3 linked regions of the Homo sapiens genome follow. The protein of the gene in region 2 interacts with the protein of the main gene of each other region in a pairwise test. Each region holds a gene or a part of one and is shown on either strand. Other genes may lie near its edges.

What was found.
Region 1: the proteins of ITGB3 (region 2) and CX3CL1 interact in binary tests that used the Homo sapiens proteins (3 or more experiments, as listed by UniProt).
Region 3: the proteins of ITGB3 (region 2) and PTPN1 interact in binary tests that used the Homo sapiens proteins (3 or more experiments, as listed by UniProt).

What each region holds. Positions count from the first base shown.
Region 1 is NC_000016.10:57,367,653-57,375,489, reverse strand, and holds the start of CX3CL1 (fractalkine isoform 1 precursor), read right to left. Parts: upstream 3,001-7,837; 5' UTR 2,922-3,000; coding exon 2,852-2,921; intron 1-2,851. UniProt on the Homo sapiens protein: Chemokine that acts as a ligand for both CX3CR1 and integrins ITGAV:ITGB3 and ITGA4:ITGB1. The CX3CR1-CX3CL1 signaling exerts distinct functions in different tissue compartments, such as immune response, inflammation, cell adhesion and chemotaxis.
Region 2 is NC_000017.11:47,256,445-47,264,141, reverse strand, and holds part of ITGB3 (integrin beta-3 precursor), read right to left. Parts: intron 1-7,697. UniProt on the Homo sapiens protein: Integrin alpha-V/beta-3 (ITGAV:ITGB3) is a receptor for cytotactin, fibronectin, laminin, matrix metalloproteinase-2, osteopontin, osteomodulin, prothrombin, thrombospondin, vitronectin and von Willebrand factor.
Region 3 is NC_000020.11:50,576,383-50,583,382, forward strand, and holds part of PTPN1 (tyrosine-protein phosphatase non-receptor type 1), read left to right. Parts: intron 1-2,037; coding exon 2,038-2,247; intron 2,248-2,785; coding exon 2,786-2,947; intron 2,948-3,320; coding exon 3,321-3,544; intron 3,545-4,882; coding exon 4,883-5,078; intron 5,079-6,309; coding exon 6,310-6,333; 3' UTR 6,334-7,000. UniProt on the Homo sapiens protein: Tyrosine-protein phosphatase which acts as a regulator of endoplasmic reticulum unfolded protein response. Mediates dephosphorylation of EIF2AK3/PERK; inactivating the protein kinase activity of EIF2AK3/PERK.

The DNA.
Region 1 (7,837 bases), on a different chromosome or scaffold from region 2:
AGACAATTCTTTGTTTTGGGGGCTGTCCCGGGTACTATAGGAGGTTTGGCAGCATCTCTGGCCTCTACACACTAGAGGCGAGTAGCTCAACTGAACCAAAAACATTGGGATATTTGTAACAAGTAAAAAATTTCTCTAGAAATTGCCAAATGGCCCATAGGGGAGCAAAATTACTCACTGAGGACCATTGCTCTAGAGATATCCACATGGCTCCCGCCCTCACCCCGCTCCAAACTGTGCAAAGCCACCTACTCAGTGGGCTTCCCTAACCCCCTATTTAAAATGTCAACACCTCTCTTCTCCCCTCTCTATTTTTCTTTTTCTTTTCTTTTCTTTCTTTTTTTTTTTTTTAAATGGACTCTCACTCTGTCACCCAGGCTGGAGTGCAGTGACACGATCTCGGCTCACTCCAACCTCTGCCTCCCAGGTTCAAGCGATTCTCTTGCCTCAGCCTCCCAAGTAGCTGGGACTACAGGCATGCACCACCACACCCAGCTAATTTTATATTTTTAGTAGAGACAGGGTTTCATGATGTTGGCCAGGCTGGTCTTGAACTCCTGACGTCAGGTGATCTGCCCGCCTTGGCCTCCCAATGTGCTGGGATTACAGGCATGAGCCCCTGCGCCCAGCCACCCCTCTCTATTTTTTTATCACAGTGCCTTTTCTCCTTCCAACAGACCACATTGTTTACTGATTTACTTTGTGTGTTATGTGTCCTCTGCAGTTGAATTACAGCACCTCGAGGGCTGAGGTCCTTGGCTGTTTTATTTATTGATGCCGCCCCAGTACCTAGAACCAGGTTTGTCACACAGTAGGTGTCCAATAACTATTTGTTGAATGAATGGACAAAATGCCTAAGGAAGCGCTTTGTGGCATAATACCTTAACCAACAGAAAAATGGAGGAATTTTTATTTAAATTAGACAGGGGCCTGGATCTGACACTCTTGAATTTATCCTCCCATGCCCTCCCCATCCACCCCCACTGCTAATGAGGCGGGTAGGCTATAGGAGCTTAAAACAGATTCGTTTTTTTTTCTCTTTCTTGCCAGGACTTGAGTGGGAGTGAATGCGTCAGCTCTTGGAGTGGGGGGGCAATGCTCTGCACTGACTCGTAGCTGCAGGTTTGTTATATAAAGTACAGAAGCCTCCTGCCTGACACAGCCCCACAAACCCACATTTGGGGACTGACGCAGCTGCCCCACACTAGTCAGGGCAGCAGCTACGAACCCCCCAGCCTCCTCTCGGGGTCTCTCTGGCTTCCAAACCACCCCCTTGTCCTACAGGGGCTCCCGAGGGCCTCTCAGAGCCATACATGTCAGCGTGGGAGAGGACTTCCAAGGTGAGCCTGGTCAAATGCCTAGTTTTACAGGAGGAGAAAGTGAGGCTGAGAAAGGTTCCAATAATGCCCAGGATCTTCCAGTAAAGCCAATGACCAAGATGAGGGCAGAAGCCTGGTTCTAAAGCCTCAGGCTGCTAGTCTGAGCACCCAGGGTCCCCCAGTGTCCCCTTTCCATCCTAGCCTAGGACCCTTCCCTCTCTCAGCTTAGTAAAAGTAATCCTCCTCCTCCGCCCTCTTCAAAACACCTCCATAGGCATTGGAACCTCGTCACCCTCCCCCAATCCACCGGAGAGGTAATAGCTATATTTAAAGATGCAGCAACTGGGACCAGAGGAGGCAAGACCCTGCTCACGGTCACATAACAGGACTGTGGCAAAGCAGCCGCCATCTGACTCCCTGCTTTCCAGATCTCACTGTCCGCAGACACCTCAGGCTTCAGGGCCCCAGCCCAGACAGCAGGAAGCCAGCAGGAATTTGCCTCCACCACTCTCACGTGCCCACCCACCCACACACCTGCTCCCTGCCCCAGGGTGAGTTTGCTCCATGGAAATATCTGGACAGTGGGGACTACTTCTCATTCTCCCAGACTTGCTGTGTGCCCACCTTCTCTGAAGGTCACCCTGCCAGATGGTGGGGGCACTCCCTGAGGAGGGGGCTGGCTAGCGGTTCATGGAGGTGATGTGGCCCACAGAGGTGGTGAGTGTGCATCTGTGCTCTCTCCTGCATTCAGTCCCATGTGTCTTACCTTCTCCTGCCCTACTTGCTGGCTGTGCATTGTCAGGCCAGTTTCTAAACCTCTCTGGGCCTCCATCTTATCCATATCAGGTAGGATGGTTAATTATGTACCCCTACCAGGTCCTGGGCTTCAGTAAGCAAGTGACTAGAGGCAAAAGCATTTTCTACACTGTGCTTGGAGGAGGAAGACAGCATGACGGGTAGACACAGGCAGAGCAACTGGGGCTATAGACTAGCACAGCAGTGGCAAGCCCCAACCATGAGCTGCAGTGACCTTGACCTTCACTGGTCCTGGGCCCCCTAATCCTGGGGGCTTTGAAAACAGGACAGGAGAAAGTCCCAACTGTGGCCTGGCCCAGGGCCAGGGCTGCGGGTTACACATTAACGCTTGATGGAAAGAGCCAGCCACTGTCAGCCAGGGCCTCCCACCCCAGTGCCCAGCAGGAGCTTCTGCAGGCTCTCTCCACCCCCGCCCTCCTGGCACACCCACACCTGGCTCCCTTATGCCACCCACACCACCTCTCTGTGCTTCCAGGCACAGCCACTTTGCTCGCTGGGCCAGGCAGGGCGGTCGCTGGCAACTGGAAATCTGTCCAGCGCTGCATCTGGGGGAAGCGAGGTGCCCAGCCCCCTCTCGCACATCCCTGGGGAAGCGGCTGCCACCGGCCTTGAGCTTTACCCAGGCAGGGTCTGGGGCCCCTGATGTCAGGCTTGAGGGATAGACAAGGGGCTGGGGGCTCCCTACCCTGTTTGTGCCCAAGTCAAGCCCCACTTACCAGCCAGCAGGACAGTCAGATGGCAGAAGGTGGCCAAGCGGAGCAGCCACGACAGAGATATCGGAGCCATGGCTGAGGGTGGGCAAGAGTCCCGGCGGGGGCCAGGCAGGCGGCTAGAGCCAGGCGGCAGAGCTCAGTGCTGTCCCCTTGCCGCCGCCAGAGATCTGTGGCTTTTTATAATGGGGTTGGCTGCCTCCGCCTCCAGCCCCCGCAGGCAGGAGGGTGGGAGGGGAGAGGAAGGGAGCCAGTGTGCAGCCGCTGGATTCCTCAGGATGTTGCCAAGGAACCAAGCCGGCTTTGTGTCCCTGGGCTTCTCACCATCCTAGGCTTGTCATACTGGGACCTTCCCCGGGAGGCTGGACTGGGCCTGCCTGGGTACAAAGGCCTCCTCTCCTGCCACAAGCTGGGAACATGCCCTAGGATCTGGCCTGGGGCCCTTGATCCTAAGTGGGCAACACACAAAAGGCCAGCAGGCCGTGGAATAGAGAGCGGGGCGCCAAGGGGCCGGGAGAGACTCAGGGCCCCTCCATCCTGGGTCTGACAAGCTCTTCTTTGATCCAGAGAATGCCTCGCCCACATCAGGATGGACCCCTAAATTTCCCCTCTTAGAATCCCAAGCTCCTGGGGGACCTTGTTGATCTATGCATCTCCAGAGCCCAGCAGGGAGCCTGAAGTCAGCAGGGGCTTGGTGCAGGGTCTGCTGAAAGAAGGATTGAGTCCAACTTCATATGGATAGATGGGGAAACTGAGGCCCGGAGCCACCCCAGGTTATCCACAGCATCAGAGTGGAGAACTCCCCTCCCACCACCATGATGAGCAGAATGTGGACAGCTCAGGACCCAGGAGAGAGCCCTGGCCTCCCTGCCTCCACCTCCCGGTCTCCCGCTCCCTGCTTTGCACCCACTCCCACCTCTGCTCTGGCCCCTGTTAGCCCAAAGAACAAGGTGGCTGCCAACCCATCCCCGATAACTCTGTGGCTCTTGGCTCCTCAACTCTGTAGCCGTGGCTTGGATAAGGCTTGCCTCTCGTGGGGCCTGAGTTCTCTATCTGCCCAAAGAGAGCATTGGGCTAGTGCAATGGGGAGAGGGCTTCCCAGCACCGGCCCTCCAACAGGCTCTCACCGAAGGGTGCAGAGGCTTGCCAGCCTTGGGAGCACATTAGAACACAGTCTGCCTTCATGGCAGCCTTCCCTAAAGGCAGTGGCAACAATCCCTGAGACTCCAGAAGAGTCAGCAGCTCTGCCTTGGTATAGGACTGAGCTGTACTGGTGTCTCCAGGCTGCCAATCTGAGGGAAACCAGTTGTGGAGCCAGCATCCCACGCTATGAGCCAGTTGGGCTGGGCAGAGGGGCCACAGATCCCAAGGCCAGGGACCTCTCTCTCCTCAACCACCCCCCCCCGCCCCCCCACCCAACCCAATGGGCTGCCTGGTGCATGGGGTTAGGGGTTAGGAGGCTAGATACTTCTTGAAGTAGCGGAACACCCTTGGCAGGAGCCAAGGTCCACTCATGCTCAGAGAATCTGTCCTGGCCTGTGCACATGGGAAGCTAGTAGCCTTCTCATTCCCAATGTCCAATCCCTCTTTTTATAACTGGTGAAACTGAGGCCCAGAGAGGGACAAGGAGGGATAAAAACTGAGGTCGTGTTCTTTCTGCTCTGTTCATGTAAGAACAGAGGAGGAGGCCGAGTGCGATGGCTCACGCCTGTAATCCCAGCACTTTGGGAGGCTGAGGTGGGTGGATCACCTGAGGTCAGGAGTTCGAGGCCAGCCTGGCCAACACGGTGAAACCTCGTCTCTACTAAAAATACAAAAATTAGCTGGGTGTGGTGCACACCTGTAATCCCAGCTACTTGGGAGGCTGAGGCAGGAGAATCGCTTGAACCTGGGAGGCAGAGGGTTGCAGTGAGCCAAGATCACGCCACTGCACTCTAGCCTGGGTGACAGAGTGAGACTCTGTCTAAAAAAAAAAAAAAAAAAAGACATTTTCTTAGGTTCACCAGCCAGGAAATGAGGGATCCTGGATTCGTCCCAGCCAGCTGGCTCTGAGGTCTGAGCTCAAGACCAGTAGGGTCCACCACCTGCCTCCACCCTCACTGCGAGGACCAATGTGAAGACTAAGTGAGTTTATGTCCATAGGGTACGGGACAGAGCCTGGCATAAAATAGAAGCGAAAATGCAAAGCACGGCTCTGCTTTTCCTCATTTGACCCTTTGGACACCCTCTACCCTCCCCAGGTCCAGCTTCTACTCCCATAAAATGGGAATGATCACCCCCATCTATCTCATTAGGATGTTAAGAACTGAATTTAGATTTAATTTGGACACAATAACCAGGCTTTCAGGCTAGCCAGACCCAAGGCTAAACAGGACTCCAGGCCGGATGTGGTGGCTCACACCTGTAATCCCAGCACTTTGGGAGGCCGAGGCAGGAGGCAGAGGCAGATTCCCGGGAATCTGAGACCAGCCTGGCAAAACCCCCTCTCTACAAACATGGTGAAACCCCCTCCCTACAAAAAATATACGAAAATTAGTGTGGTGGCCTGTGCCTGCAGTCCCAGCTGCTCAGGAGGCTAAAGTGGAAGGATCAAGTGAGCCTGGGGAGGTTGAGGCTGCATTGAGCCATGATCATGCCACTGCACTCCAGCTTGGGCACAGAGTGGGACCCTATCTGAAAAAAAATAAATAAATACATCAGCAGGACTCCACCACGGATAAGGGGTGTTCCCTTGGGCAAGTGACTTAACCTCTCTCTGCATTTCAGCTTCCCTATATGTAAAATGGGATGCAAACAGCCACCTCATCAAGCCACCACGACAGTGAATAAAACTAAGGACTTTCACAGTGCCTGGCACGCAGGAGGCATTAGTATCTGTTATTGAGCCCGGTGTGTGCCAGGCAATGTGGTGGGATGGGGGACACAAAGGCAAGTGAGCTGAAGTCCTTGCCCCCAGGAGCTGTAGCTCAGTAGGAGAGAGAAGTTGCCAGCCCTACCAGAGGGCTAGAGGCTGTGGGCTCGGGCAGGAAGGGAGAACTGCATGCTTGTTGGGGAAACAAGAAAGGTGGGTGAGAGAGATGATCTTTCCATCTGAAGATGGGCAGAATTTTGCTTTGTCTCTTTAAAATTTCTGTTTTGGAAAATATTCAACAATACAAAAGAAAGAATCGTACAAAGACTTTCAAATCTCCACCAATGGCTGGGCGCAGTGGCTCACGCCTATAATCCCAGCACTTTGGGAGGCCGAGGTGGGTGGATCACCAGAGCTCAGGAGTTGGAGACCAGCCTGGCCAACATGGTGAAACCCCGTCTCTACTAAAAATACAAAAAATTAGCTGAGTGTGGTGGCGGGTGCCTGTAATCTCAGCTACTTGGGAGGCTGGGAGAGAATTGCTTGAACTCGGGAGGCAGAGGTTGCGGTGAGCCGAGATTGCACCACTGCACTCCAGCCTGGGCAACAAGAGAGAAACTCTGCCTCAAACAAACAAACAAACAAACAAACAAAACCTCTACCACCAATGATTAGCATTTTTTAATATTTGTTTTATCTTTTTTATTTTTATTTTTTAGCCAAACCATTACAAAGTAAATTATAGATGCTTGACACTTTTCCCCTAAATATTCCAGCATGCATCTCCTTAGAATAAAGCTATTGTCTTACATACATGTAATATCATTATCCCATCTAACAAAATTAACAATAATTCCTGTATGTCATCTAACACCCAGTTCATACCCAAATTTCTCCAATTGTCCCCAAAATGTATTTTGTGGTTTCTCCTCTCTCCCTCTTTCCTTCTTCCTGCCTCCTTTCTTCTCTCCCTCACTCCCTTTCTTTTTTATTTTATTCATTTATTTTTATTTTATTTTATTTTATTTTATTTTTTGAGACGGAATCTCGCTCTGTCACCCAGGCTGGAGTGCAGTGGCGCCGTCCCGGCTCACTGCAAGCTCTGCCTCCTGGGTTCACGCCATTCTCCTGCCTCAGCCTCCCAAATATAGCTGGGACTACAGGCGCACGCCGCCACACCCAGTTAATTTTTTTTTTTTTTTGTATTTTTTTTTTTAGTAGAGATGGGGTTTCACTGTGTTAGCCAGGATGGTCTTTATCTCCTGACCTTGTGATCCACCCGCCTTGGCATCCCAAAGTGCTGGGATTACAGGCATGAGCCACCGCGCCCGGCCATTTATTTATCTTTTCGAGACAGGGTCCCTCTCTGTCACCCAGGCAGGAGTGCAATGGTGTAATCTCAGCTCACTGCAGCCTCGACTTCCCAGGCACAAGCGATCCTCCCAGCTCAACCTCCCGAGGAGCTGGGACCACAGGCTCACGCCACCATGCCTGGCTAATTACTGTACTTTTTTTTTTTGTAGAGATGGGGTTTTCCCATGTTGCCCAGGCTGGTCTCAAACTCCTGGGCTCCAGCGATCTGCCCACCTTGGCCTCCCAAAGTGCTGGAATTATAGGCGTGAGGTACCACACCTGGCGCCTCCCTCCCTTCCTTCTTTCTTTCCTTTATTCCCTCCTTGCTTTTATCTTTTGAACGAGGATCCGATCTAGGTTCATGCACTGCATATGGGTATTTTTGAGTCTACACAGACCACTTGCACATTTTTTAATGACTTCAACTTTCTTAAGAGTCAAGTCGGCCGGGTGTGGTGGCTCATGCCTGTAATCCCAGCACTTTGGGAGGCCAAGGCAGGCAGATTACTTGAGGTCAGGAGTTTGAGACCAGCCTGGCCAACATGGTGAAACCCCGTCGCTACTAAAAATACAAAAATTAGGTGGGCATGGTGGCATGCACCTATAATCCCAGCTACTTGGGAGGCTGAGGCTAGGGAATTGCTTGAACCCTGGAGGTGGAGGTTGCAGTGAGCTGAGATCGCGCCACTGCAATCCAGCCTGGGCGGCAGAGTGAGACTCTGCCTCAAAAAAAAAAAAAAGAGCAAAGTCAAGTCCATTGTCTTATACGGTGTTCTCATTCTTAATTT
Region 2 (7,697 bases):
TCAGGGCTCTGCTGCCTTGACCAATCAGGCCTCAGTTGTTTCAACCAAACAGAACTAAGCAAGTTGGAATTGTTCATTTGCATAAGTGGACCTCATCAGGATCCTAGGCAGGAACTTTCATTATAAACCCCCAATTCTGACACCAACAGCTGAGTTTCCCCAGTTTCCAAACTGTTCATTGGAATAAAGTCTTTCCTCCCAATTCCTTTTCAGAGAACTTTTGTTCACAAGGGAAAAACAGGAAGGATTTTTGTCTGAGCAAGGGGATTCCCTGTACACAAAGTTCAAATGTCTTGACCACTGGCCATATCCTTTCATTGACCCTTCATGCTGTAAGAAAATAAAGCAGGATAGGCCGGGCATGGTGGCTAACACTGTAATCTGAGCACTGTGGGAGGCCAAGGCGGGTAGATCACCTGAGGTCAGGAGTTCAAGACCAGCCTGGCCAACATGGCGAAATCCAGTCTTTACTAAAACTAGAAAAATTAGCTGGGCATGGTGGCACGCACCTGTAATCCCAGCTACTTGGGAGGCTGAGGCAGGAGAATTGCTTGAACATGGGAGGCGGAGTTTGCAGTGAGCCAAGATCGTGCCACTGCACTCCAGCCTGTGTGATGGAGTGAGACTCTGCCTCAAAGGGAAAAGAAAGGGTGGGGGTGGGGGGGGCGGGGAATAGCAAGCAATGAGGGAAGGAGTCTCCTTTAAAGCATGTGGTCAGGAAAGGTCTCTCTGTGGAGCTGACACTTCAAGATGATGTTAATGGGAAGATCTAGGGCAGGTCCTGTCCTTGTAAATGAAGCCACATTATGTCTGGTTATCATCTCCAATGAGGTTAATTAGGTCGCCATGTGCTGAAGACTGCATAAAGCCCATTCCAGGGACAGAGTCCTGTCTTCTCTAAGGTTGTGGTCTAAAATTAACACCCAGCTCCTGAGAAATGTGGTAAGGCAGGAGCAGTAAAACAACAGATGGATATGGCAGAAAAAGCATGCAAAGCAGCAGGAAACCTCACGTCTAAAGCCATCTTTGCCCTTCCTCTGGCCGTATGACCTCAAGTACATCCCTTCATCTCTCTGGTGCTCTCTCCAAGGCCCAGTGCCTCTTTGAGTCTATGTCACATTCATAGTCGAGAAGTGATAACTGCTCTGTAGTATTTAACGGGTCTAACCAGCCACATCGGCCAAGCACCGGAGACTCCAAACAGCTGCTTCCTTTCCCCAGTGCTCCCGAGTTGTTAGGATTAAATGACATAACACGTATGAAAGAACCCTCTATAGTGGATGCTCAATAAATGTTCATTTCCTTCCCCCTTACTTTCACTCTAGTCACTTCCTACACCAGGAATCCCCATCCCCTCGCCTCCACCTCAGGGTCAGACGTGAAAGGGCCCTTTGTCTCTAACAGGATATAGTGAAGAAATCACTCTGGGCAGGAGACAAGAGTCCCCAGGGAGAGACCCAACCAATGCCACTGAGCCAGTTGTATGATCTTGGACAAGTCACTTCACTTCTCAGGAACTCCCTTTTTGCTTTTTTGTAAAACAAACAGGTGTCAAATTTGATGATCTTCAAGGTGCTGCCAGTCCTGGAAGTATCCACTCTTCCAGCCAGAAAACATCAACAGGGGGACTCATACCCTAGGAAGCCTAGCAACCCAAGGCATGAGAACCCTCAAACAAGGCACAAGTGGCCATTTCTTCCTGATGGCCTGATATTTGACTCAAACGCTGCATCTCAAGAGTTCTGGAAATTTTTATTAGCATCGACCCCACCTCATTCAGTATACAGAAGAAGCAGGTCTGTACCAAGCTGTCCGAGGCTCAGCCCAGGGGTGCCCTATTGGTGACCTCCTTGGCATCCTGCTGTCCAGTTCTGCAGCCTTCCTCCCCCAGCTCATGTGTTATGGGTGTGGACAGCAGGCCGCGGTGCTAACACCAGTCCTTACTGCCAGCCTGTCTTGGTAGGAAAGCAAACTGGTTCAACCGTTTGGGAGGACAAATTGACAACACCTACTAAAATTTAAATTTAAAATACGCATGCCCTTCGACCCACCAACTTTCATTCAAGAAATTAAGTCTGTAGAAACACTTGAACAAAGGTGCATAATAAATGAATAAGGATATCCCCTGCAGCTTTATTTGTAGTAGCAAATAATTGGGAATGATCCCAATGTCTGCCAACAGGGAATTGGTTAAGTAAATTCTGATATATCCATATAACAAAGAGTATGCCTTATGGCTAGAATTATAGCTCTTGGGATAAATAATGGAAAGCCATAAACTGACATAAAAAGATGCCTAGAGTATATTATTAAGAGACAATGGGCCAGGTGCGGTGGCTTATGCGTGTAATCCCAGCACTTTGGGAGGCCGAGGCGGGTGGATCACCTGTGGTTAGGAGTTCAAAACCAGCCTGGCCAACATGGCCAAACCCTGTCTCTATCAAAAACACAAAAATTAGCTGGGCGTGGTGGCAAATGCCTGTGATCCCAGCTACTCGGGAATCTGAGGCAGGAGAATTGCTTGAACCCAGGAGGCGGAGGTTGCAGTGAGCTGGGATCACACAACTGCACTCCAGCCTGGGCGACAGAGTGAGACTCCATCTCAAAAAAAAAAAAAAAAAAGACAATGATCCTATTATTGATTATCCTATTTGAGAAATAACAATAATGATAAATAATTATATATGTTGACAAATACATAGAAAAAAACTCTGCAGTAACTATCAACAGTGGTTATCTTTAAGGACAAGACTACAAGGAACTGGTACTGGTACTTTCTGCATTATATTTCTGAGCTGCCTTTTTTTAAATAATAAGCTTAATTACTTTTATAAGCTAAAAGAAAATTAAAGCTAATTTGAAATGTCCTCTGTTCTGCCTCCCTGTCGACATTTGCATTTATTTAAATGTAGGCTCCCCAGAGTCTGCTGGGCTTTCCACAAACTGCACCTTCAGCATCAAAACCTCTTGGAATGGCAAACTCAGCAGGAACACAGAAATGAGCTTTGGGGTATGGTTTGCATGAGGAGATGCTGGTCAAGGGATATAAATTTTCAGTTAGACAAGAGGAATAAGTTCAAGAGATCCACTGTACAACATGGTGACTATAGTTAATAACCGTATGTCATCTACCTGAAAATTGCTGGGAGGAGATTTTTAAGTGTTCTCACCACAAATAAATCAGAAGTATGTATGTGAGGTAATGCATATGTTATTTAACTTCATTTAACCATTCCACAATGCGCACATATTTCAAGACATCATGTTGTACATCATAAATATACATAATTTTTATTTGTCAATTTCAAACAATAATAATAATAAAAGAGAATGGAAAAAAAAAAAGGAATAAACTTTGTCAGGCCCACTCTCACAGCCTTCAAGAACTGCCCAGGGCAGCATGGTCTGTTCTCAACTTGTGGAAGTCCCAGAAAGGAAACACCACCCTCCCCTCCACTGGGGATTGGTCAAACATGCTCCTTGCAGGCGGCTCCAGCAAAGGCTCAACCTGGAGTTCAACACGTGCGATGGCTAAAGTTGGGGTCTGGAGCCATCAGTGGATCTCACAGACCCAGGTTTCTCTATCCAAAATTTCCATTAGCAAAGAGATGTAGGGTTGACTACAGGGACTTTTTAAGTGGCTACTGAATATGTCTTTTGCCAAACTTCTGGAGCTCTCTTCTAGTGCAAAGTTTTTCAAGCTTGATTTTAACAGCAGGATCTTCTTTTTTTCCCAAAGAAATCCTTACATGAACTCCAAATTGTTAATTAGTTAAAGGAGTTCCAGTTGAAGGTGGTGGGGAAGGGGCAGGAGCAAATTGAAGTATTTCCCTTCATCTTCTCTGTCCCACTTTGCAGCCCCTGGGACACCAAGAGACTGATGCCTAAAGGTAAAGTCACTTGTTCAAAGTCACCCAGCAAGCTGATGAAAAAGCCTGCAGAACTGTGAATCGAATGTAGGTTTCTTAATTCCAGATACGTTGTTCTTTCCACACTGAGCTTTTTTCTATATAAAAGGAAGTACTATATATCATGGGTTTAAGTAAAGGAATACACACACACACACAAATAAACATAAATGCGAGGGGAAATGTCTAAACAGAACACACCACCTGATTAATATGAACATTATAGGGGAATAGAATTAGAAGGGAACCAGCAATTTTAACGACTGACAATGATCCTATGTGGATGAACCTATTTGAGAAATAACAATATTTGTTTTGTTTTGTTCTGTTTTTTGAGACAGAGTTTTGCTCTTGTTGCTCAGGCTGGAGTGCAATGGCACAATCTCGGCTCACTGCAACCTCTGCCTCCTGGGTTCAAGCGATTCTCCTGCCTCAGCCTCCCGAGTAGCTGGGATTACAGACGCATGCCACCATGCCCAGCTGATTTTGTATTTTTAGTAGAGACAGGGTTTCTCCATGTTGGTCAGGCTGGTCTTGAACTCCTGACCTCAGGTGATCCGCCCGCCTCGGCCTCCCAAAGTGCTGGGATTACAGGCATGAGCCACCGCGCCCAGCCAAGAAATAACAATATTTGTTATTTTGACTTTTTTAAAATGTGTATCACCTTGTTCTTTTTCTTTCTCTCCTTGAATATTTAAACATCTTCACTAACTGAACTAAGAAATTGAACTAACTCAACTATAAAACCGAGAGAGGGGGGTAAGTAAATAGTCTTTTCATGGGAACATGACAGAAAAACAGAAATAAGACATCTAGTGTTAGATCTAGTGTTAGAATTTGTCTAGCAAGCTTTCTGGTTTTGGCCAAAAAGCCACCCACCCACCCACCCTCCCAAAAAAAAGGAAAAAAAAAAAGTCAAGTGGGTTGTTTTTTCAGAGATGCTACCAAAAATGTAAAAAGGTAGAATAGCCCCCAGGTTTACTTAACAACTTCTGACTCCAAGCATCATGACATACAATATTTGGCCACAAAATATCTGTTACTCCTATGAGCAAGAATAATAAGTGTTGGTTGCTACAGAATCCTCTCTAGTATCCTGAAGTCTTTAACTACTTAGCACATGGAAAATCTAATGACTTATATATAGCTAAATACATCTATCCAATTATAAAATTTAGAAGCTGAAAGCTGGGGAGCACCTCCAAAGTTTAACGGATCCAGTCCCACTGCTTTCAGGGTAACTGTTCCAACACGGAGGATGACGGAGTGGCCTCAGACAATGTCTTAGAGTTACTGATAGATGCAGCATCATAGATTAACCCCAAATGTATTGTGCTAAGTGAAAGAAGCCAGACTGAAAGTCTATACACTGCATGCTTTCATTTATATGACATTTTGTAAAACATAGAACTGCAGGGACAGGAAATAGATCAGCAGTTGCAACCGACGAGGGTTGAGGGTAGGGTATCGATTACAAAAGAGCTGGGGGGGCACCTGGCACAGTAGCTCACGCCTGTAATCCCAACACTTTGGGAGGCCGAGGTGGGCAGATTGCCTGAGCTCAGAAGTTCGAGACCAGCCTGGGCAATATGGTGAGACCCTGCCTCTAGAAAGAAAAAGAAGGGAAAAAAAGAGCTTGGGGGAATTTTAGGGGATGATGGAAAAATTCTGTATCTTGATGATGGCAATGGTTACTTGACTATATGCATTTGTCAAAATTCATAGAACTGTATGCACTAAAAAGGGTGAATTTTACTGTACATAAATTATACCTGAATTATCTAACAAAAAAAAAAAAAGAGTGTTTTTGGTGAGACTGTGTGTGTGGACAGAAAGGCAGATGCTATCACTTTTTTGCTGGAGAGTCTCACGTTTCAATAAATGCCAGCAGTTCCCACACGGGGAATAGGCAGTTCCCCTAAACAGAGTCATTTCCCTGCTCCCACCTTCATTTCCACTAGTGGCCTGAGCTCCATCAGGCACAATGAAGGTCCCACTCAGGAAGGGCCAAGGTTCAGGAAGAGGGAGCAGAGGCGATGGGGTGGAGCAGCCCACTCTGTGGGCAGCAGAGAGGGCTGGGTAAAACGAAGCGGTTCATCCCTGAAGCTGCTCAGTCACTCCCTCGGTTAATTATCTGTCTTCTGATTCATGAGTTGTGGTTCCTGTGGGCATGCTTCCTGGAGATTTCTGCCAACAAGGGAAGAAGGGTTCTTGGGACTGGGAGGGGATGATAACCTCAGATCCCAAGTAGGGTGGGGAGCTTTAGAGGAGAAATTTCGATCAGGAAATTCTAAAGTCATAGCCAGACTCCCCCTCCTCACTGTGGTGTGCTTGCCCCATCTTATGGTCTTCCCAGGAGACCTCTGTCACTCCTCACCCTTGCCCCAACACCCACACGTCCAAGGGGGAGAAAGGAGAATGTTGCCCTTCTAACGGCTCCTCCCAGGAGGGAAAAAAAGGCAGACACTTTACAGAGGATCCCTTGAGTTTTTCACACTCTCAGATCACAGGTCTAAATGGTGCAACAGTGCAGCGGCCCAAATGCCCAAAGAATTCATGATCTTGGCTATGTTTTCATACCCTCCAGATTATCCAAACGGAGCACTTGAGGATCTTGTATGAATGAGTGCAAATATTCAAATATTGGGTTTCTTAAAGGGAGGCACATCATCTATAGATGCCTTTACATAGCATTCCACAGATATTTGTTTTGCTGCCTATGTGCCAGGCAGTGGGCATAGAGTATTGAACAAAATAGACATGTCCCTCTTCTCATGGAACTTGAAGTCTTATAGATCCTTTTATCTTCCTCTTTTTTCAGATACAGGGCTTGAGGTTTTCTTATGGGTAAAGCAAATGTATAAGCCTTTTTCCTTCTTGGCTTCTTCTGTGGATTCTTGCCGGGTTAGAGTAGCTGAGATATGCCAAACCAGCAATGAGGAACGAGTTGAAATAAGAGGGACCCCCTCTCACATATGTGGGGGAAAGGGACCCCATCAGTTTCATTCTGGAAGCCTGCATAGCGCATATGCATGAAGTAGTAACAGCTTTTGCCTCCAATACATGGCAGATAGCATGGATAGGAAGAATAATGACAATAGTAGTTGTCATTCATTAAACACTTATTTTGTGCCTCTGTTTCATTTAATCAGCATAATCATAGGCATTGTTTCCTCTGCCTTACAAATGAGGAAACTGAGGACTCAAGAGATTAGGTAACTTATTTAAGGCCACACAGCCTACAGGAGACAAAGTCAAGAATCAAACCCACATCTTACTGGCTTTAAACCATAGCCCTCCCTTTCCGAAGCCAACAAGCCTTCCTGCTGTGTTTCTCCAGGACCTGAGGATACCTGCAGAGGGCTTCGATTGGAGAGCTTCTAGGATATAAACTCCAGAAGAGAAATAAGCACCTCAGCTTAGACCTAATTAGGTCAGAATAAAAACCTAAACACGAGGAAGACACAAAACCCATACTTCCTGGGTGAAGCTAAAAAGATCATCTTTGTACATAAAATGAAAAACTTGATGCTATCCTCAGTCAATCTCTCTTCTCCCCAAAGCAGACTCCGCTACTCTGGGACAACCTCTCTGTGCCACTCAGCTCTTTCTGTGCCCCTTCAACACTTGGAGTCCCAACACAACTCTCCTACTCTCATCCCACCATCTGCTTCCCCAGGGATCTGAAGACCCTACCACCAACACTGGGATGGCAGATATAAATATAGTAGAAACTGATTTGTGAGGTTGGGGGGGGGGGTATTACTCTGGAAGTCTGACTTTAGAGCC
Region 3 (7,000 bases), on a different chromosome or scaffold from region 2:
TTGCTCCAACAGACTTTGTTTTTAAAAGGCTTTTCTCAGCCATAGCTGTCTGTTCTAGCACAAGGCTGGAATGAGTTCCTTGTGAAAGAGGTGAGCAGGTGTGAGGGAGGGTGTCAGTGGGCGGTAACCCACACCTTCAAGGATTAAAGGAAAACTTGCATTTGGCATGCTTGCTTCTTATTCAATTTTAAAATACATTTTAACGGCCGGGCACGGTGGCTAACACCTGTAATCCCAGCACTTTGAGGGGCTGAGGTGGGTGGTTCACGAGGCCAGGGGTTCAAGACCAGCCTGGCCAAGATGGTGAAACCCCATCTCTACTAAAAATACAAAAAAAAAAAAAATTAGCCGGGCGTGGTGGCGGGCACCTGTAATCCCAGCTACTCGGGAGGCTGAGGCAGAGAATTGCTTGAACCCAGGAGGCGGAGGTTGCATTGAGCCGAGATCATGCCACTGCATTCCAGCCTGGGCGGCAGAGCAAGACTCTGTCTCAAAATAATAATAATAATTTTTTAAAAATACATTTTAAGTCCTTTTCTTCCCCACCTGCCTCCACCCACCAAATAGAAGAGGTATTTCTTCTTCTTTAATGTCATTAAGGTTATATGGATACCATTTTCTAGAGAGGAAAGAATGATGGAATTGCCTAGTGTGAGTCTAGCAATTATCCTAACATACACAAATTTCTCCTTGTTCTGTGCCAAGATACTGTATTTAATATTTAATGAACATTAAATATTATTTACTAGTGTATTTAATGGCTGAGGCAGGGTTAAATATGTATTATTTTCATCCCAGCAGAGTTGGGGGAGGTCCTAGTAACTATGCCATGAGCTCTGTGAGGGTGAGGTGGTGTCTTTGCCCCCGCCTCCCTGGCACAGTGACTGGCACATGATTGGCATAGTGTGGACATTCGTCAAGTGAAGGAAGGCATCATGAGCAGATCTCTGGCCTGAATCCTTCTGCCATCAGCTGCTCGCCAGGTGGCCCTGGCACTGGGCCACAGGGAAACTCTCCAGGCTGGTATGGTTCCTGTCTGTGGCTGTCTTCCCGGGCCCATGTTAGGAGACTTTCACTTCCAGAGCCCTTTCCCTCTCAGGGCCTTGCTTACCAAGTGACTGGTTCCCATTTACTAGGAGCTCTTAGGTCATTGAAGATGTTGCGTACTCCCCCCAGTGAGGGCTGCCTTTTGATCACAGCCGCCAGAAGCCTCAAGGAAGGAGCAGAGCTGGAAACAGACGCCAGGCCATTGCTTCTGTTCCTCTGGGGCAGACCCAGCCACGGAAGAGACATTCTGGGACAAGGGCTGGGGTCCACCTTTCAAACGTGTCTGCAGCAGGCTCTCAGCATGGACTCTCTGCCTCCAAACATCCACCTCCTCATCGGAAAATGGATGGGAGTGCCTGCCTGGAGCAGCTGGTGGGAGAGCGCAGCGCCAGCACGTAGGACACACTCGGTTCATGGGCTGATGCCGTTCGCATTGACTGCCTCTTCAGCTGGGTGTTGAGCCACACCTTGGAGTCACCAGTCTTTGGAGACCAAGTCTGCTACTTTTTTCTCTAAAGTGACAATCCTCTGAAACCTCCAGATCATCTTGAAGCCCCCGTCTGAAAGTTGCCCAGAGCCAGTGCCTCACCTGCTGTTCCTTGTTCACTTTTTCACGGGAGGCCTTGCAGGGCTTTATGACAAGATTTTATGGGTGGCTGCCCAGCATCATTGTGACTCGTGAGACAGAGAGAAACCAGTTGTAACCATGTAGACAGTGGAAGTGATAGGGAGAAAAGAGGTGAGGGGACTCTTCAATCCGAAGGGAAATGAAGTCTAAGCAGGCGCACCCTGCAGGTTCAGTGTCAAGCCCAGGGCCTGGCCCCAGGGTGTGGTATTTGTTGACTGGGTGTGTGGACCCTGGGAGAAAGTCTGAGAATGAATGTTCCTCTTAGAGGTAGAGAGTGGAAGGTGACTCTGTGTGTACTTGGAATTAGTGATTTCTGTACAGATGATTCTTTTAGAATCATCATGAGTATTTTTCTCTTTCAGACCCAAGAAACTCGAGAGATCTTACATTTCCACTATACCACATGGCCTGACTTTGGAGTCCCTGAATCACCAGCCTCATTCTTGAACTTTCTTTTCAAAGTCCGAGAGTCAGGGTCACTCAGCCCGGAGCACGGGCCCGTTGTGGTGCACTGCAGTGCAGGCATCGGCAGGTCTGGAACCTTCTGTCTGGCTGATACCTGCCTCTTGCTGGTAAGGAGGCCCTCGCGGGTGCCCTGGGGAGCTCCTCTACCTGCTCTGCTGTGATGTTTTTTCCTAAGTAGAAACTGAAGCGCTCCTCTTCCAAAATACAGAGACTCACTGTGTTAGTCTGTTTTTGCGTTACTAATAAAGGCGTACCTGAGACTCGGTAATTTGTAAAGAAAAGAGGTTTAACTGGCTCCCGGTTCTGCAGGCTGTACAAGCATGGCACCAGCATCTGCTCGGCTCCTGGGGAGGCCTCAGGGAGCTTCCAGTCATGGTGGAAGGTGAAGGGGAGCAGGAGCAAGAGATGGGGGAGGTCCCAGACTCTTAACCAGCTCTCTTGTGAATGCATTGCCTCAGGGAGGGCACCAAGCCTTTCATGAGGGACCTGTCCCCCTGACCCAGACACCTCCCACCCAGCCCCACCTCCAACACTAGGGATCACATTTCAGCATGAGATTGGGAGGGGACAGACATCTAACGGTGTTATTAACGTTGCCCTTGAGAATTGGACCTGGCTGACTTATATCTCCTCTCTGGCTTTCAGATGGACAAGAGGAAAGACCCTTCTTCCGTTGATATCAAGAAAGTGCTGTTAGAAATGAGGAAGTTTCGGATGGGGCTGATCCAGACAGCCGACCAGCTGCGCTTCTCCTACCTGGCTGTGATCGAAGGTGCCAAATTCATCATGGGGGACTCTTCCGTGCAGGTCAGCATTGCCTTTGTTTGAATCCAGGTGTGACCATTTTAACTTTTTTGTCTTTGAAGGAGGCTGTCAGTTGTAAAAGTTCAAACACCGTCTGGTGTCAGGGGAAATAGCTACCCTTCATGTTTAAAATAGCTAGAAAGTTGTCAAAATGTTCACCATGTTGCACTTTGTGCCTTTGAAGTGCTCACATAGAGAGCATTGATAGGAAGACGAGACTTTATTTTCAAAAGATTTCATCTTCCAAGTACATGGCTGCAGCCCTGAGAGGCCGAGAGCCCCTCGCCAAGCCGTCACCTCTGCTCATGCAAAGGGATTTCCTGACAAACCAGCCGAAGTGAACACTAATAGGACTTCCTCTTGCTGCTCTTTCAAGGATCAGTGGAAGGAGCTTTCCCACGAGGACCTGGAGCCCCCACCCGAGCATATCCCCCCACCTCCCCGGCCACCCAAACGAATCCTGGAGCCACACAATGGGAAATGCAGGGAGTTCTTCCCAAATCACCAGTGGGTGAAGGAAGAGACCCAGGAGGATAAAGACTGCCCCATCAAGGAAGAAAAAGGAAGCCCCTTAAATGCCGCACCCTACGGCATCGAAAGGTAATATGATTGGGTCCCAGCTTGTTGGGGTGAGGGGAAATGACTTTCTGTTCTAGAAACACACGCTGGTACTGAAACCCTGTGGATGCAGCCTCCTGTTGGCAAGCAGCGCTTCCGCATCCTTGGGGAACAGGGCGCGTGGACCACAGCCACTCCACTCCTGGCTGCTGGAGGTCCGGTATTGGGCACAGGGTGGCCGCAGGACATGAGCCACTTCTGTGGGCTTCTAGTGCCACCTTGTGGTGCTTGTTGGAATGAGGGGCTCGGAGCCACCGAGTAGGGTTTTTCTGCCCCCCCTGACGACAGCGCCCTCCCCCAGGTTTCCGGACAGTCCTGAAATGTGATGTCCAGGCTTGAGTGCCCTCAGTCCCCACAGTGGTCCTTTGGGGAATGTAACCTTTTTTATGTGGTCTTGATTAAATCCCATTTTACTTCCTTGCAGGTTAACAACCATTATTGAGTACCTATTGATATGTGTGGTGTACTGAGTTAACTAGAACATGTCCCCTGGTCTGTGTTCTAGACCATCTTGCTGGGAAAAAGGCAGACCCAAAGCATATTTTGGTGGGGGCCCATGGACAGTGATGTGATAGAGGTGTCCGCTGAGGTGGTCAGGGAAGGCTGCTTGCAGTAGGTGGCCGTGCACGGAAAGTTTGCAGAATGAGCAGGTGTTAGTTCCAGCTGGAGATGACTGCCGGCTGTGCCCTTGGTACCTGCTTTCTGGAGGGAAGTTTTAAGACGTGTGCATACTTGACCCAGCAGTTGTATACATGGAGAAATTTACTTTGCAGCAACTCTCAAAACAAGCGTGTAAAGATGTGTATAGGTAGTTGTGTTTGTTGTGGCATTGTTTGTAGTAGTGAAAAATTAGAGACAGGCCAATGATATAACCAGGGACCTGATCAATTATGTTCTCTCCCGGTGTTGGGATATTCTGTAGCTCTTAAAGAATGAGATCTGGGTGTACTGATGTGGCCAGACATTGCAATTGCAGTACATGAGAAGGCAAATCATACAGTAGTGTGTACACCAGTGAGTCCTCCAGCCAGATAAATCCTCACAGTGACCAGTCGCCCAGGCACCTTGTGAACCCTACCCTGGGTGTGGGTGCTATCTGAAGTACCTGGGGGAGGGGGTGACAAGTGGACTTCAGGCTGATGTGGGCCCTGGCCTGGCCCTCCCTCCAAGCAGAGGGGGCTGGCTCGCTGGAAGGTTAACATCATCCAACTCTGTCTACACGTGGCTTGTTTTTTCCTAGAATTCCTGCCACAATAGCAGCATCCTTGCCATTCATTTTCTCCAAAGTGAGTAACCCATCTCTGCCCTCTGATTCCTCAGCATGAGTCAAGACACTGAAGTTAGAAGTCGGGTCGTGGGGGGAAGTCTTCGAGGTGCCCAGGCTGCCTCCCCAGCCAAAGGGGAGCCGTCACTGCCCGAGAAGGACGAGGACCATGCACTGAGTTACTGGAAGCCCTTCCTGGTCAACATGTGCGTGGCTACGGTCCTCACGGCCGGCGCTTACCTCTGCTACAGGGTATGTTTCCACTGACAGACGCGCTGGCGAGATGCTCGTGTGCAGAGAGCACTGGCCGCTAGCCCGATGGTAGGATTCAGTTCTGTGGTGCATCTGAGCCAGTCTCAGAAGAAACAGATCAAAGGTTTTTAAAGTCTGGAACTGTGGAAGGGCTAACAAGAGAATTAAGGATCGATGCACTGGGGTTTTAAGGAGCCCTCTGGTCCCAAGAATATAAGAGTCTAATCTCAGGGCCTTAACCTATTCAGGAGTAAGTAGAGAAAATGCCAAATACGTCTGTTTCTCTCTCTCTTTTTTTTTTTATTCCTTTGTTTTTGGAAAAAAATAGAGTTACAACACATTGTTGTTTTTAACCTTTATAAAAAGCAGCTTTTTGTTATTTCTGGAACAAAAAAAAACAAAGTAGGCACTTATGAAACTTTCTCATACCCTTAGGTGATGTAATCAGCCATATAATTTATATTTGATTTCCCAGGGAAGGAATCCCAAACTTTTACGAATGTAAACTCCCTTGGAGAAGAGGGTTAGGACGCTGTTGCGCTCAAGCCCCCCTCAGCTGTGTGCACACTGAGCCAGGACAGGGTCTTTGAGCTTTCCCACTATAAGAAGAACAGCAACAAAAGGCCGTCTAGAAAAACAGAACCTGCCTCTGCTTCTGCTCAGGGTGTCCCCGCTGGGTTTCCATTGTCCTTTCTCCATTGCTCCCTCCTGTGACAGCCATCTTGCTCATGTACCAGCCCTCATCACCCCATCCCCATAAATGGGTGTCCTCGAGGCCTCTGCCTGGGGGTCAGAGGTCACCACAGGGTGGCCATTGGCATGTCAACCCGCTGTTAATTCAGAGAAGTGGGCTCCACCTCATTGGGAGAAGTGCCATTTCAGCAGAAATTCACACGTTAGACGTGTGTTGCTGTTAAGTAAGGGGAAGAGAGAGGACTAGCCTCAGAGCTCTGGCCATGGAAATGACCTCCTAAGACTTTTTCGTGGTTTTAAATATTTTACCTCTTTCCAGGTGGCATCTGAGTACATCAGATGGTTTTGCAAAATGCAAACAATTTTTTCCTTGGGGATGATTTTTGGGGAGAGGGGGCTACTGTAAAAAATAAAACCAAAACCCCCTTTGCTCCCTCGGAGGTTGAAGTTGCCGGGGGGTGTGGCCGGGGTCATGCATGAGGCGACAGCTCTGCAGGTGCGGGTCTGGGCTCATCTGAACTGTTTGGTTTCATTCCAGTTCCTGTTCAACAGCAACACATAGCCTGACCCTCCTCCACTCCACCTCCACCCACTGTCCGCCTCTGCCCGCAGAGCCCACGCCCGACTAGCAGGCATGCCGCGGTAGGTAAGGGCCGCCGGACCGCGTAGAGAGCCGGGCCCCGGACGGACGTTGGTTCTGCACTAAAACCCATCTTCCCCGGATGTGTGTCTCACCCCTCATCCTTTTACTTTTTGCCCCTTCCACTTTGAGTACCAAATCCACAAGCCATTTTTTGAGGAGAGTGAAAGAGAGTACCATGCTGGCGGCGCAGAGGGAAGGGGCCTACACCCGTCTTGGGGCTCGCCCCACCCAGGGCTCCCTCCTGGAGCATCCCAGGCGGGCGGCACGCCAACAGCCCCCCCCTTGAATCTGCAGGGAGCAACTCTCCACTCCATATTTATTTAAACAATTTTTTCCCCAAAGGCATCCATAGTGCACTAGCATTTTCTTGAACCAATAATGTATTAAAATTTTTTGATGTCAGCCTTGCATCAAGGGCTTTATCAAAAAGTACAATAATAAATCCTCAGGTAGTACTGGGAATGGAAGGCTTTGCCATGGGCCTGCTGCGTCAGACCAGTACTGGGAAGGAGGACGGTTGTAAGCAGTTGTTATTTAGTGATATTGTGGGTAACGTGAGAAGATAGAACAATGCTATAATATATAA